4 linked regions of the Homo sapiens genome follow. The protein of the gene in region 1 interacts with the protein of each later gene in a biochemical or structural test. Each region holds a gene or a part of one and is shown in the gene's direction. Other genes may lie near its edges.

Region 1 (4,488 bases):
CTAAAACAGAAAAGAATGTTTATGCCAATGTATGGATTTAAAAGACCTACAGCTACATACATATAATATAAACCAATTGCAAAATTCATGGTAAAATTGTTATAGGATCTTGATAATTAAAGAGAAAGTCTTCAAATACATTATCCAATATTGATTGCTTTCATTGAACCACTTGGGTTAACACAGTCTTTTCTAATTTTAGGCGTGGGGGTGAGGGGGGATGTGTGTGTGTTAGTTTAAAACTCCTAGAGTTTTTGGCCGGGCGCGGCGGCTCACGCCTGTAATCCCAGCACTTTGGGAGGCCGAGGCGGGCAGATCACCTGAGGTCAGGAGTTCGAGACCAGCCTGACCAACGTGGAGAAACCCTATCTTTACTAAAAATACAAAATTAGCTGGGCATGATGGCACATGCCTGTAATCCCAGCTACTTGGGAGGCTGAGGCAGGAGAACCGCTTGAACCCGGGAGTTGGAGGCTGCAGTGAGCTGAGATCATGCCATTGCACTCCAGACTAGGCAACAAGAGCGAAACTCCGTCTCAAAAAAAAAAAAAAAAAAAAAAACTCTCAGAGTTTTTAACTATTTATTTCTTTTCACTGGATTCAGATATTCAGATATAATTTGTAGACTCTTTTATTTAGAGTATTTCCTAAGCTCCGAACCTTTAATTTAACCTTTAGAAGCTTTAACTTCTTGTGTTTTTAAGGTCAAAGCAAATATATTTATCTCCTTTACTATCACTGTTGTTTATTTTCTTGGAAGGATTTAGTTTTATCTAAAGCTCTTTTTGACTCACATTAAATTTATTATTTTTTTACAAAGTTGAGTTAGTGAATTTTTCATCAGTGAAATAGTAACAGTAGTTTTACCTTTGCATTTATAATTTTTAATTTTAAGATGTAATTATTTTAAAAATAAAATATACTGTATTCAGTATTGTAGTTGGTGGAACAAAAAAAGTAGCATGTTTTTAATAGTAACAAATTACCTAATACGTAGATAGATGATAGACAGATCTGCTCATTAAAGCATTAATCTTTAACAGATTTAATAATTCTTAGATTCTAAATAAAGGAGTAGCACATAGCATCACAAATGAAGATTTTTAGATTTGATTATCTATAAAATATAATATTGATTATATAGCCCATTTGTATTTTGTTTTACATTTAGCAAACTCACTTTTAAGACTTTATAATTTGACACTTTTTTTTAACTAAATCTTGCCATAAAGTACCTCTTTCCATATCTTTGCCATTTTCTCAGGAAAGTTCTAGTAATGTATATGTTGTTTATGAAGAATTAGATTAGCATCAATTATCTTTACACATTTTTCATCTGTGCCTTCACTTTCTAATAGGTGGTCAAGAAGAATACGTCTTATCTTATGAACCAGTGAATCAACAAGAAGGTTTGTGAAGCCTATTGATGTTTTATAACCTTCTAGAAGAATATACTTTTTAATTTGGGGGAAAAAAATTCTCATACCCCAAAAAATGTTGTATTAAAATTTTTTTTTACTACATATACATGTAGAAATTTACTACATGTGTTTTATGAAACATAGTTTACTCCACAGAATATTAGAATCTAGTCATTTCATACTGACTTTTATATTTGTGTTTTATTTCCCAAGCAACTTTGTTCCAGTGTTCTTGTTAGCATCACTATCTTCCAAATAACCCTTTTTTGAAAATCTTGGAAGTATCTTTGAGCCTTCTCTGTTCCTCCTCCTCCTCCTCATCCAGTTAGGTTCCAGGCACTGTTTATCCCACTTCTTTCTTATTTATGACCTTCTTTTCATCCCTTCTATCACAATGTTAGTTCTCAGTCTCACTACCAATCTCCATTATTCCAGCATGATCCCAGACCACCCAGAGTTTACACTTCTGTTAGATCATCTTTCTAGAATGCTACTACTGGGATTATATCACTTCCTACATCCAGTTTCTGTTCTGCCCTTCTTTGCTCTGCTTCCTTACAATTTCTACTTCAAAGCCATCTGTAAAACACTAGACTTTATTCTGTCATTTGCAATGTAAAGAAACATTATCTGCGAAAACACCAAATTTAACTTGATTGAATTATCAATATGACTTCTAGCAGAAGACTAAGTAAAGTTTAAGATCTGAGTCAAGATTATAAAAGAGCAAGTTACGCATCTTTGGTTGATGGTAGAGTGAGATGGAGAGGGAAGAAAAAAATTAGTCATAACAGTTAAGGATATTTTTGTTCGCTGGTGAAATAAAATACATTGATATTTGTTGAATGTTTATTCCTTTTAACATGCAGTTTATCTTTATAGTTAATTATACTCGACCAGTGATCATATTGGGACCTATGAAAGACAGGATAAATGATGACTTGATCTCAGAATTTCCTGACAAATTTGGATCCTGTGTTCCTCGTAAGTAAACCAAACAAAAACATTTAATTGTTACTCTTAACATTTCCTGTCACTGTGTGTGGGAAAAATAGATATAACCATTTTTTAATGGTTTGTACTTATTTTATCAGTTACTCTTCCATCCTCCATATTATTGTCCTTTCTCAGATTTAAATTAATCTGTTCTGTTGAACTTTACAAAACGATGTAAGTAGAAAATGGATTTATTGTGGTTTTTTTTTTAATATTAAACACTTTCCCAAGTTTTTTTCTGTTAAAGATACAACTAGACCAAAACGAGATTATGAGGTAGATGGAAGAGATTATCATTTTGTGACTTCAAGAGAGCAGATGGAAAAAGATATCCAGGAACATAAATTCATTGAAGCTGGCCAGTATAACAATCATCTATATGGAACAAGTGTTCAGTCTGTACGAGAAGTAGCAGAAAAGGTAAGCATCAGACTAATCCCAGAATATAGCTTCTAATCAGATATGCCTTTGACAGTATGCAAGACTGGTAGGATAGATACAGCACTAATTAGTTTTGTTAATGTGATGAATTTGCTTACCTAAATAATTAATTTTCCATGGCTTAGGAAAGTGCATACAAGATAAAACAGGTAAATAAGGTAAACAAAGAAAGTGAAAATAGAAATGATAACATGAATGTAAGAGAAGTTATTTTCAGGTCATTTGCTAGAGATAGACCTTTTGTTTAGGCCTAGCTCTCCAGCATATATTAAAAGGAGATAAGGGCCGGGTGTGGCAGTGCACCCTTACAGTCCTAGCTACTGAGAAGGCTGAGTTGAGAGAATCACTGAAGCCTGGGAGTTTGAGGCTGCAGTGAGCTATGAGCATGCCACTGAACTCCAGCCTGGGCAACAGAACAAGACCCTGGCTCTTAAAAAAAGAAAAAAAAAGAAAGATCAATAAATCTAACCACTTAAAATTTTTAAAAAACTTTTTTTATGGCCAAAGACTTTTTCCAAAAACTATTGGAAAACACCATTAACAATGTCAAAAGACAACTGACAGAAAAAATTTGCAAGAAAAGGGCTAATATTCCCAATATATAAAGAACTCATAAAAACAGGGAACAGAGACCAGAAACCCAATAGAAAAAAACAGTGGACAAAAGATCAGAATATATAGTTCACACAAAAATAAGATATAAAATGGCCTTTGTACATAGGAAATGACGTTCAACTGTAGTCATTATTAAAGAAATGTAAAGGCCGGGTGCGGTGGCTCACGCCTGTAATCCCAGCGCTTTGGGAGGCCAAGGCAGGCGGATCACCTGAGGTTAGGAGTTCAAGACCAGCCTGGCCAACATGGTGAAACCCCGTCTCTACTAAACATACAAAAATTAGCCAGGCTTGGCAGTGCATGCCTTAATCCCAGCTTCTCAGGAGGCTGAGGCAGGAGAATTGCTTGTACCTGGGAGGTGGAGGTTGCAGTGAGCCGAGGTCGTGCCGTTGCACTCCAACCTGGGTGACAAGAGTGAAACTCTGCCTCAAAAAAAAAAAAAAATAAGGCCAGGCACAGTGGAAGGCTGAGGTGGGTAGATCACCTGAGGTCAGGAGTTCAAGACCAGCCTGGCCAACATGGCAAAACCCCATCTCTACCAAAAATACAAAAATTAACTTGGCGTGGTGGTGCATGCCTGTAATCCTGGCTAAGGAGGCTGAGGCAGGAGAATCGCTTGAACCCAGGAGATTGCAGTGAGCCAAAACCATGCCACTGCACTCCAGCCTGAGCAACAGAGCAAGACTCCATCTCAAAAAAAAAAAAAAAAAATGTAAATTAAGAAGACTACTCTAAATTCAATTTCTCCCCTATCAGATTCAGGGAGAAATATGAAGACATTTTCTTGGTGAGACTGAGAGAAAACAGTTGTGCATTGCTGGTGGAAATGCAAACTGGTACTGCCTTTTGGAAGGGTATTTGGCAATATCTAGCAGCTTTCCTTCAACCCAGCATCCCACTTCTAGGAATTTATTCCAAAGATATACCCCAACAGTATGAAAATACATGGGCAAAAGGGTATTTATTCATTGTAGCATTGTTTATAATTGTGAAATACTGAAAATCATCTAAATGC
Region 2 (3,393 bases), on another chromosome or scaffold:
CTGCCATTTTATTTTTTTTCTGTTTTTATTATCTGTTTTCTTTTTCCTGCCTTGTTGTTGGTTATCTGAACACTTTTTAGAATTCCATTTTTATTTATCTGTAATGTTTTTGAGTGTATCCCTTTGTATATCATTTTAGTGGAAGCTCTAGGTATTTCTCTCTATATATATAATATATATGTATATAAAGATATACATATATATATATCTTATGATAGTCTATTAGCATCATCATTCTACCAGTTCAAGTGAAGTATAGAAAACTTCTTATTTCCTCTTATGTCTCTTTGCCTTCCCTCATTTATAATATAACTATCTCAATAATTCCTCTACATCCATTTAAAACCACATCAGGCAGCATTAATGTTTTTGTTTCAAAACATTAAATGTAACTTAGACTCTAAAAGGGAAGGACAGCCTATTGTATTTACACATATTTTGGCTTACCATGTTCTTTCTTATTTTCTAATATTCTAAGTTTCCTTCTTTTATAAATTCCTTTCTGTTTAGAGAACTTCCTTTAGTCATTCTTTGTTTGTTTGTTTTTTGTTTTGTTTTGTTGTTGTTTTTTTTTTTTTTGAGATGGAGTTTCGCTCTTGTTGCCCCAGCTGGAGTGCAATGGCATGATCTCGGCTCATTGCAACTTCTGCCTCCCAGGTTCAGGCAATTCTCCTGCCTCAGCCTCCCGGGTAGCAGAGGTGACAGGTGCCTGCCACTGGGCCCGCTAATTTTTGTATTTTTAGTAGAGACGGAGTTTCACCATGTTGGCCAGACTGGTCTTGAACTCCTGACCTCAGGTGATCTGCCAGCCTCAGCTTCCCAAACTGCTGGGATTACGGGCGTGAGCCACCAAACCCAGCCTAGTCATTCTTTTAAGATAGGTCTGCTGGCAGCAAAGTCTTAGTTTTCCGTCTGAAAAAGTCTTGATTTTTCTCTTTGTACTTGAAGGATATTTTTGCTGGACATAGAATACTAGTTTGGCAGGTCTTTTCTTTCAGCATTTGAGAAATGTGCCATTTCTTTCTGTCCTCCATAGTTTCTGATGAGAAATCTGCTATTCAGTAGTTTTAGGCTGCAATATCATAGTAAGGTATTCATGTCAACAGGGTCAGTAGGTCACAAGTTCTCTAAGTTTGAAGCGTCAGCTTCAACCAAACAAATTAATGGCTATTCTACATTCAAAAATCAGGAAATTTAAATTTATTATGAAATGTAATGCAGCATGTAGTAAAGACTTAACCAGTGTTTTAAAACTCAACTTTCAAAGAAAAGATAGTATTGCTCCCTGTTTCATTAAAACCTAGAGAGATGTAATCAGTAAGCAAGAAGGAAAAAGGGAAATTCACAAAGTAACTTTTTGTGTCTGTTTCTTTTTAACCCAGCATGGAGAGAAAATTTATGTCCTTGCAACCATCCATCTCCGTATCAGAAATGGAACCAAATGGCACCTTCAGCAATAACAACAGCAGGAACTGCACAATTGAAAACTTCAAGAGAGAATTTTTCCCAATTGTATATCTGATAATATTTTTCTGGGGAGTCTTGGGAAATGGGTTGTCCATATATGTTTTCCTGCAGCCTTATAAGAAGTCCACATCTGTGAACGTTTTCATGCTAAATCTGGCCATTTCAGATCTCCTGTTCATAAGCACGCTTCCCTTCAGGGCTGACTATTATCTTAGAGGCTCCAATTGGATATTTGGAGACCTGGCCTGCAGGATTATGTCTTATTCCTTGTATGTCAACATGTACAGCAGTATTTATTTCCTGACCGTGCTGAGTGTTGTGCGTTTCCTGGCAATGGTTCACCCCTTTCGGCTTCTGCATGTCACCAGCATCAGGAGTGCCTGGATCCTCTGTGGGATCATATGGATCCTTATCATGGCTTCCTCAATAATGCTCCTGGACAGTGGCTCTGAGCAGAACGGCAGTGTCACATCATGCTTAGAGCTGAATCTCTATAAAATTGCTAAGCTGCAGACCATGAACTATATTGCCTTGGTGGTGGGCTGCCTGCTGCCATTTTTCACACTCAGCATCTGTTATCTGCTGATCATTCGGGTTCTGTTAAAAGTGGAGGTCCCAGAATCGGGGCTGCGGGTTTCTCACAGGAAGGCACTGACCACCATCATCATCACCTTGATCATCTTCTTCTTGTGTTTCCTGCCCTATCACACACTGAGGACCGTCCACTTGACGACATGGAAAGTGGGTTTATGCAAAGACAGACTGCATAAAGCTTTGGTTATCACACTGGCCTTGGCAGCAGCCAATGCCTGCTTCAATCCTCTGCTCTATTACTTTGCTGGGGAGAATTTTAAGGACAGACTAAAGTCTGCACTCAGAAAAGGCCATCCACAGAAGGCAAAGACAAAGTGTGTTTTCCCTGTTAGTGTGTGGTTGAGAAAGGAAACAAGAGTATAAGGAGCTCTTAGATGAGACCTGTTCTTGTATCCTTGTGTCCATCTTCATTCACTCATAGTCTCCAAATGACTTTGTATTTACATCACTCCCAACAAATGTTGATTCTTAATATTTAGTTGACCATTACTTTTGTTAATAAGACCTACTTCAAAAATTTTATTCAGTGTATTTTCAGTTGTTGAGTCTTAATGAGGGATACAGGAGGAAAAATCCCTACTAGAGTCCTGTGGGCTGAAATATCAGACTGGGAAAAAATGCAAAGCACATTGGATCCTACTTTTCTTCAGATATTGAACCAGATCTCTGGCCCATCAGGCTTTCTAAATTCTTCAAAAGAGCCACAACTTCCCCAGCTTCTCCAGCTCCCCTGTCCTCTTCAATCCCTTGAGATATAGCCAACTAACGACGCTACTGGAAGCCCCAGAGCAGAAAAGAAGCACATCCTAAGATTCAGGGAAAGACTAACTGTGAAAAGGAAGGCTGTCCTATAACAAAGCAGCATCAAGTCCCAAGTAAGGACAGTGAGAGAAAAGGGGGAGAAGGATTGGAGCAAAAGAGAACTGGCAATAAGTAGGGGAAGGAAGAATTTCATTTTGCATTGGGAGAGAGGTTCTAACACACTGAAGGCAACCCTATTTCTACTGTTTCTCTCTTGCCAGGGTATTAGGAAGGACAGGAAAAGTAGGAGGAGGATCTGGGGCATTGCCCTAGGAAATGAAAGAATTGTGTATAGAATGGAAGGGGGATCATCAAGGACATGTATCTCAAATTTTCTTTGAGATGCAGGTTAGTTGACCTTGCTGCAGTTCTCCTTCCCATTAATTCATTGGGATGGAAGCCAAAAATAAAAGAGGTGCCTCTGAGGATTAGGGTTGAGCACTCAAGGGAAAGATGGAGTAGAGGGCAAATAGCAAAAGTTGTTGCACTCCTGAAATTCTATTAACATTTCCGCAGAAGATGAGTAGGGAG
Region 3 (3,994 bases), on another chromosome or scaffold:
CATGTCTTTAATGTAACTTATTACAATAGTAAAATTATGTGTTTGTTGGTTCTTTTCCTCATTTTCTCCATTGCTATGTAGGACTTCCAAATTAGTGGTGTGTTAAGGTCTTTGAAATCAATAGTGGTTAAGAGCCCAGGTTTTGTGGTCAGGTACCTACAGATCTGTTCCTATATAACAAAACATTCAATAAATCTTAGCTATCAGGATGAGTAGATTGTCATTGTGAATATTATCTAGTCTAATTTTTTTCTCTTAACCTGAAAATCAGGATGGATTCCTATTATTCATAGAGGAGAAATTTTTCTTTAATTGAAACTCTTTTATATCTTTGATTCTTCTATTTTGTTCTCTTGATTGTATTTAGAACTATACGCTTTGTATACTTAAAAGTCTTCCATTGATTTTTATTCTGCACGCACATTGTTGATAAGCAATTCTTTGTGCACGCTGTAGAAGGAGGGAGAGGTGCTAATAGTGTAATGACTAAGAGCACGGGTTTAGGAGTCAGGCGGACTGGGGATTGAATCCCTGTTTTGCCACTTTATTAGTTTTGTGACATTGGGTAAAATACAAAACAGTGCCTGTTTCCTCATCTGTAAAATGAGCTTCATAATTTCTACTTAATGGAGTTAGTGTGAGGATTCAAGGAAATTTATGCAAAGTATTTAGAACAGTGCCCAGATAGTAGATTCACTAAGTACATGAAAGCTATTGCTGCTGCTGTTCCTGTTAGAAGAGGCTCTCATGCGCCCTCAGTCCTGTTGAGATGTGTTTTCTATGGCACAATTAACATCTATATAGACGAAGTGTAGGAACAGATGATAGGTTGTAGAGTGAGAAATTCTGGAGTATAATCATTACGGACATTACTTTTATTAGTAGGAAAATTGTAGTTATTTAGCCATGTAAATAGTCATGGGTAGATTTCAAGTTTAATATCCTTTTACAATGAATAAGGAGAAAACAGTTAATAAATATTCTTAGGTTGGACTTTTTCAAGTGCTTACAACTAATACTCAGAATTTTTATTGCAAAGGAAGGAAGAATGATTTTTAGTTCCTAACAATTGAGTTTTAAAAGTTCAAGAAAATGAAACTTTAGTTTTACTGGCCTATACAGGTTTCATATTCTAGGTCATGAGCATCAATAAAGGGATTTTAAGAAAAATAGACACCTTATAGTAATAGTTTTAGAATTTTTAAATTGGTATCCTTTGTGCGACTTTTCCAAATTTATTTTAATTCACTGTTTCTGTAAGTGAAGTCTTGAGACCCGAGAGTGATGTAGAATTGCTTCTCTGCCTGGTAAAGATAAATGCCCAGAAAGAGGGCAGATCCGGCAGGCAGAGAGGAAAAAGGGAACTTGTACCAAGCACAAACAGGTTCTAGGCATAGTGCTGTGTACTTAGGTTCTTCCTGTGCTTCAGTCTTTCCAATAAATCCAGGGGTTAGGTTTTAATCTTACTATTTTATAGTTACAGACCATTTTAAATGGACAAGCAGCCCATTTAAAGATAAAAGTACTTAGATGGACTAGCAGCTTCTCTCACCAATTATTTCACCACACAAAGATAACATCATTGTGAAATTTGGTTTAGTTAACATGCATTCCCTGGCCTGCCTCACACCGCACCTCTAACCGATACCATGCAAATGCACATCTGCTGCTACACTGTGGATGCTGTTTTAGTAATTATTTTTATATTTTTAATAAACTTTTGTGGCATGAACTAGTTTTTAATGCTGGTGCATTGTTTCTACTCTAGCACGAAAGGAGGGCAGGTATCGAGAGCCCCCGCCCACCCCTCCCGGCTACATTGGAATTCCCATTACTGACTTTCCAGAAGGGCACTCCCATCCAGCCAGGAAACCGCCGGACTACAACGTGGCCCTTCAGAGATCGCGGATGGTCGCACGATCCTCCGACACAGCTGGGCCTTCATCCGTACAGCAGCCACATGGGCATCCCACCAGCAGCAGGCCTGTGAACAAACCTCAGTGGCATAAACCGAACGAGTCTGACCCGCGCCTCGCCCCCTATCAGTCCCAAGGGTTTTCCACCGAGGAGGATGGTATATGCACATAAATATTCCTAAAACCTCCAAGTTAGATGTGTTCACTTGTGCTGCTTCCCAAGGCATTTCTGTTCTCTTAACACTGCAGTCAGCTATGTCTAACCATATACTACACAAAGTACACTACATTCAGAGTTCCAAATTTAGGGTTACAGCTGTTGACTGCTTTCTTTTGTGTGTGTGTGTGTGTTTCCTTAAATGGCTTTAAAAATGCCAAAGATTATGGAGGGAGTCACTTAAAATACAGTGTGTATATAACTGGTTTTCTTCTCCAATTCTCACTAAAATTTGATTGCTTTCTGTGTGTCTGTGTATGTGTGTTTCCCTAAATGGCTTAAAAAATCCCAAAGATTATGGAGGGAGTCACTTAAAATACAGTGTTTATATGACTTGATTTCTTTTCTAATTCTCGTTAAAATTGAAGTACTTCTGTGACCCTATTTTAAGAAAAAGAATAGGCCAGGTGCGATGGCTTACACCTGTAATCCCAGCACTTTGGGAGGCTGAGGAGGGCAGATTACTTGAGCTCAGGAGTTTGAGACCAGCCTGGCCAAAGTAGTGAAACCCTGTCTCTACTAAAAATACAAAAATTAGCCGGGTATGGTGGCAGGCACCTGTAATCCCAGCTGCTCGGGAGGCTGAGGCAGGAGAACCACTTGAGCCCGGAAGGCAGAGGTTGCAGTGAGCCAACAACATGTCACTGCACTCCAGCCTGGGTGACAGAGTGAGACTCTGTCTCAAAAAAAGGAAAAGAAAATGAAAATTTCACAAGTTTGTGCTGTTGTCAAGAATTTTAGAAGCATGTAGGATTCTCAAAGGTGGATGGTTAAAGTTTTCTGTGGAAACATTATATTTGCGCTTTTAATGAATTGGGACTCATTTGGAAATGAAAGTCTGATAAAGAAAGATACATTATCAGCCAGCCTGATGGCTCATGCCTGTAATCCCAGCACTTTGGGAGGCTGAGGTGGGAGGATTGCTTGAGGCCAGGAGTTCGAGACAAGCCTGGGCAACATAGTGAGACCTGTCTCCATAAAAATATTTTTCAAATGACCCAGGCGTGGTGGCGTGTGCCAATAGTCCTAGCTACTATGGAGGCTGAAGTGGAAGGATCACTTGAGCCCAGGAGTTCAGGGCTGTGGTGACCCATGATTGTGCCACTGCACCGTAGCCTAGGTAGCAGAGCAAGACCCGGTCTCTAAAAGAAAGAGAGAGAGAAGGGGAGGGAGAAAGGGAAGGAAGGAAGGAACCCACATTCTTTATAACTCTTTGTGCGTTCTTTCTACAAATCTATCTGACCATGCTGAATTGAGAATGAGGAAGGAGAACATGGCCTCCCATCTTCTTTAAAGTTTTCAGTTTAACATGTTTGATTACACAATCATAGAAAAAAGCAACACGTGACTGGGAGATTGGGAGGCCGAGGCAGGAGAATCGCTTGAGCCCGGGAGGCGGAGGTTGCAGTGAGCCGAGAACACTGCACTGTGGATGGCAAACCCACACCCTGTCTCAAAAAAGTTAAATTAAATTAAATAAATAGAAAAACATTACAAATGAAAATTACTTAAAATCCTGTCACTTGCAGATAGCCACTATTAAAATGTTGTTATATATTCTAGACTTTTTATGTGTATCTGATCGTATATTTTTTTTAAATGGCACATGCTATTTTACAACTTTTTAAAATGAATTTAACAACTTTCTGAACAAAAATATATAATGCATATCTTTTTAATATTGTGTGTATATATGTAAAGATATGTATTGCATACATTTTAACCTTTTTGTTGTTCGTCATTGTTTAGGAAAAAAAGACAAGGATTCTAAGTGAGCTATACTAAAAAGAATAACTATGATAGTTTTATTTAGCACATCAGTGAATATATTCTCTATAGCACAAGAAATTACTTGCTTGCT
Region 4 (3,994 bases), on another chromosome or scaffold:
TTTTTTGAGATGGGTTTCGCTCTTGTTGCCCAGGCTGGAGTGCAGTGGTGTGATCTCAGCTCACTGCAACCTCCGCCTCCCAGGTTCAAGCGATTCTCCTGCCTCAGCTTTCCCAAGTAGCTGGGATTATAGGCATGCGCCACCATGCCCAGATAATTTTGTATTTTTAGTAGAGACAGGGTTTCTCCATGTTGGTCAGGCTGGTCTCGAACTCCTGACCTCAGGTGATCTGCCCGCCTCGGCCTCCCAAAGTGCTGGGATTACAGGCGTAAGCCACCGCACCCGGCCTGTATCAGTAATTTAAAATTAATGTTCATACTACAACTGTCCAGGTAATAGGTCATTATCCATAATACATGTCTAATATGTATAAATGTGTGGACATTTGTATGTATGTACACATTTGTATATGATGTATATGTACACATACATCAGAAAGCATGTGTCTATGTGTGTGTTGTAGGGTTCATTGCTCACTAATGTGTCTACTTTTCCTTCTTCTCTTAACCAGACTCCTCTACTTCTTCATTCTGAGTGATTTCTTGATCGATTAATGTGTTTTTTTGTTTTGTTTTTTTTGTTTTTGTTTTTTTTCATTTTCTAAGGTGTTTCACTGAGTGATGGAATCTCTGAATCTTTGCCAGATACTCTTCTGGGTGATAAACTTTTAGGTTTCAGTTCTCTCAGTATCTCACCTGTATTTTTCTCTCATCATCTAGCTTTCATTGTTGCAGATGAAAAGTAAATTTTTTTTAATTACCTGTTTTCTCTTGCAACTTAAAAGATCTTCTTTATCTCTCTCTCTCTTTTTTTTTTTTCAGGAATCCAACCAGATATTCTTAGGGGTGTGTGTGTGTGTCTGTGTTTCTTATCATTCCTGGTTGCAATTTATGCTTTTTCCATCTGTAGATGTAGGATTTTCCATGGTTCAGGGGAAATTCTCTCTGTAATTCATTTAGTTATAGTCCTTCTTCCATTGGTTTCTTTTTTCTCATTCTACATTATAGTGTTTTTAGAGGTTGTTCCTCTAAATATGTTTATGGAAAATAGAAGGATCACAGAAAAAATACTACAAGGGACTATCTGCTATTTTATAAGAAAGACACGGACATGTGCTTTGTGATTTGAAAGGAAGGAGTAACACTGATAGTTTTGTAGTGTATGTTTATGATACTGCACTTGTTAGATGTGGTTACTAGGTGAAAAAATTCGTTTCAGAGTACTCACATGGGGGTTGGCTTCATCTTCATTATACCACATTTCTCATTGTTAAAATTTATTTCTGATGTATGTTTTAAAACATAAATTCACAGATTAAAAAATTTTATTTTAAATTCAGGGGTACATGTGCAGGTTTGTTATATAGGTAACCTTGTGTCATGGGGGTTTGGTGTTCAGATTATTTCGCCACTCAGATATTAAACCTGGTACCGTTCAGTTATTTTTTGTGATCTTCTTTCTCCTCCCAAAGATGGCTCCCCAGTGAATGCTTCCTGACATTTACACTCTTCTACAGTAATTTTCAGTACAAGGTCTCACTCTGTCACTCAGGCTGGAGTACAGTGGTGCAGTCACAGCTCACTGCAGCCTAGACTTGCTTGGGCTCAGGTGATTCTCCCACCTCAGCCTCCAGAGTAGCTGGGACTGCGGGCCTGCACCACTATGCCTGGCTCTTTTTTTGTATTTTTAGTAAAGACAGGGTTTAGGCATGTTGCCCAGGCTGGGACCACCTGCTTTTTTTTTTTTTTTTTTTTTGGAGACAGGGTCTCACTCTGTTGCCCAGGCTGGAGTGCAGTGGTATGATCACGGGTCACTGCTACCTCAACATCCTGGGCTCCAGTGATTCTCCCACCTCAGCCTCCCGAGTAGCTGGGACTACGGACTACAGGCATGTACCACCATGCCCTGCTAATTTTTGTACTTTTTTCTAGATATGGGGTTTCACCATGTTGGGCAGGCTGGGTCTTGAACTTCTGGACTCAAGCAATCAGCCTGCTTTGGCCTCCCAAAGTGCTAGGTTTACAGGCATGACCCACTGTGCCCAGCCTAACCTGTTTTTTTATTTAAGTCTCCCTTCAAACATTGTCTCTCTGAGGAGAGGCAGATACTGTTTTTCTTCTACTTCCGTGGGTACTCCTGTGTACCCCTGTTGTAGCCCAACCATAATGTAATTTACTGTTTTGTAGGGGCCCATGAGAGAAAGTCATGTGTCTTTTTGTTTTCATATCCTTAGATGTGGCACAAGTGCAACCTTAAAAGGTTAGTAATATTCACCAAACAAATACTTAGATGAATGCTTAATTTCTATGAAACAATGCTTATTCTCCAGGTGTCAGGCATTATGCCAGTGATAGATACGCAGACATAAATAGGGCAAGGTCCTTGTCCTCAAGAAATGCCATCTGAGGTGGGGTGGGATAGCAGATGAGAGACAACAGGGCCAGATCATGAAGGAACAGATCGTATTTCATTTACAGCTAAAGGATGCCAGCATTTATGCTATTCACCTTTTTAAAGAGGTGAATTAACAGTAGTTAAAAATTCTAACTTAACTTACCCATTAATAAGAGCAGCTTTGTTATAAATTTTGCCACTTGAGGAAATGTATTCTTATAGACCCAGATGTCAAGCTGTCATAGAATCTTGTGATGTGAGGAGATTAGCATTGTCTATATGTTTCAAATGATTTACTGTAAGTAGGGGGTTTGCGTCAATCGTAGGCGGAACTTTGGGAGTCAGAATTGCATCAGTTGTCTGAATTGAATTACTTTGTCTGTGCTTTCTGAATTTTGAGATTAAAGTTTAAAATCAAAGTCTTGGCTATTGACTTGTATATTTGTAAAAGTTGAAGTAATCTTTTCTTAGTTTTAATATTTTCAAATCTAATAACTTTTTTCTTTTCTGATCTTGTGCAGTTTAACAGTTCTGGGAATAAAAATCTTTATTAGTTAATTGAATATTATGGGTTTATATAGAATTGCCATTCATAATATTTTAATGTAATATTCAAAAAAATTCATTTTTTTTTAGTAATACAACCGTCACTTTAGCATCTGGTATTCCTTAGCATCATCATTTGAAAATTAACAATATTGTACCTTAAAGTACAGAGGTCCTTTATAAAGCAGCAGGCTTTCTAGTTGATAGATTGCTGCGCATAGAGTAGTTTTTAGTTTGTTGCCTATGGTGAACTTCTTATTTTCTGGATGATTCTTTGGGATCCTGGCATTAGGCACAGAACATAAGCTTACACTGTATTGTCTTTACATTTGTGTGCACCATAACTGTGAGGACCTTTTCAATGTTATGAAAAATGCAAGTTAGAAGAACTTCTCTTTTTCTCTTCAATGCACATGGACCTGAAGTCTTTTGAAAATACAGTTCTTCAAAGTTTAGAAGCAATCCATGGAATATTTTCAGTGACACACGGAATATTGTAGTTCAGCATATATGGTCAGTTTATAGGAATTTTTATTTATTCTGTATTTAGTTTTTAATAAGAATTTCATAACTGGAAGATTTCATAGCAACAAAGGACTGTCATTGAATGTGTATATAAATTTAACTTGTATCTTAGAGTTTTCTAGTTATAACATAGTGATGGTGATGTAAGGATTTGGCATAGAAAGAAGTTTTAGTGAAGGAAGTGAGAATTAATGTTCATGCAGAGTAATCAAACCAGGAGAGTATGGTTTGATAAGCCAAAAGAGATGAGAGTTTTAGGAGGAAGGGATGATTAATAGTGTCAAATTAAAGGAAAAACAGCAAACAAGGTTAAGTAAGATAAGGACAAAACAGTATGTATTGATTTAAGTATTTATGAAAGCAGTTTCAACAGAGCAGTTGGAACAGGAGACTAATGGCAGTGAATATTGTCTGTCTTTGTTTTCTCTTCTACACTAGAGAACTGGACAGATAAGTACTATTATTGTCTATTCTGGCTGACATTATTGTTAGTGAATGCAACACATGTTGAAGAGCAGTCTTGTAACCT

Evidence for each region. Proteins that work in one complex are often made in the same cells at the same time.
Region 2: the proteins of DLG1 (region 1) and CYSLTR2 interact in a test that uses a peptide from one of them, tested with the Homo sapiens proteins (2 studies listed by IntAct, with this or other methods).
Region 3: the proteins of DLG1 (region 1) and RAPGEF2 interact in a test that uses a peptide from one of them, tested with the Homo sapiens proteins (one large-scale study listed by IntAct).
Region 4: the proteins of DLG1 (region 1) and GUCY1A2 interact in a test that uses a peptide from one of them, tested with the Homo sapiens proteins (2 studies listed by IntAct, with this or other methods).

The regions. Positions count from the first base shown.
Region 1 is NC_000003.12:197,063,625-197,068,112, reverse strand, and holds part of DLG1 (disks large homolog 1), read left to right. Parts: intron 1-1,358; coding exon 1,359-1,409; intron 1,410-2,303; coding exon 2,304-2,405; intron 2,406-2,648; coding exon of another isoform or gene 2,649-2,662; exon of another isoform or gene 2,663-2,664; coding exon 2,665-2,837; intron 2,838-4,488. UniProt on the Homo sapiens protein: Essential multidomain scaffolding protein required for normal development. Recruits channels, receptors and signaling molecules to discrete plasma membrane domains in polarized cells.
Region 2 is NC_000013.11:48,705,435-48,708,827, forward strand, and holds part of CYSLTR2 (cysteinyl leukotriene receptor 2), read left to right. Parts: intron 1-1,382; 5' UTR 1,383-1,383; coding exon 1,384-2,424; 3' UTR 2,425-3,393. UniProt on the Homo sapiens protein: Receptor for cysteinyl leukotrienes. The response is mediated via a G-protein that activates a phosphatidylinositol-calcium second messenger system.
Region 3 is NC_000004.12:159,354,085-159,358,078, forward strand, and holds part of RAPGEF2 (rap guanine nucleotide exchange factor 2), read left to right. Parts: intron 1-1,768; coding exon 1,769-2,074; intron 2,075-3,994. UniProt on the Homo sapiens protein: Functions as a guanine nucleotide exchange factor (GEF), which activates Rap and Ras family of small GTPases by exchanging bound GDP for free GTP in a cAMP-dependent manner.
Region 4 is NC_000011.10:106,941,977-106,945,970, reverse strand, and holds part of GUCY1A2 (guanylate cyclase soluble subunit alpha-2), read left to right. Parts: intron 1-3,994. UniProt on the Homo sapiens protein: Has guanylyl cyclase on binding to the beta-1 subunit. Isoform 2 acts as a negative regulator of guanylyl cyclase activity as it forms non-functional heterodimers with the beta subunits.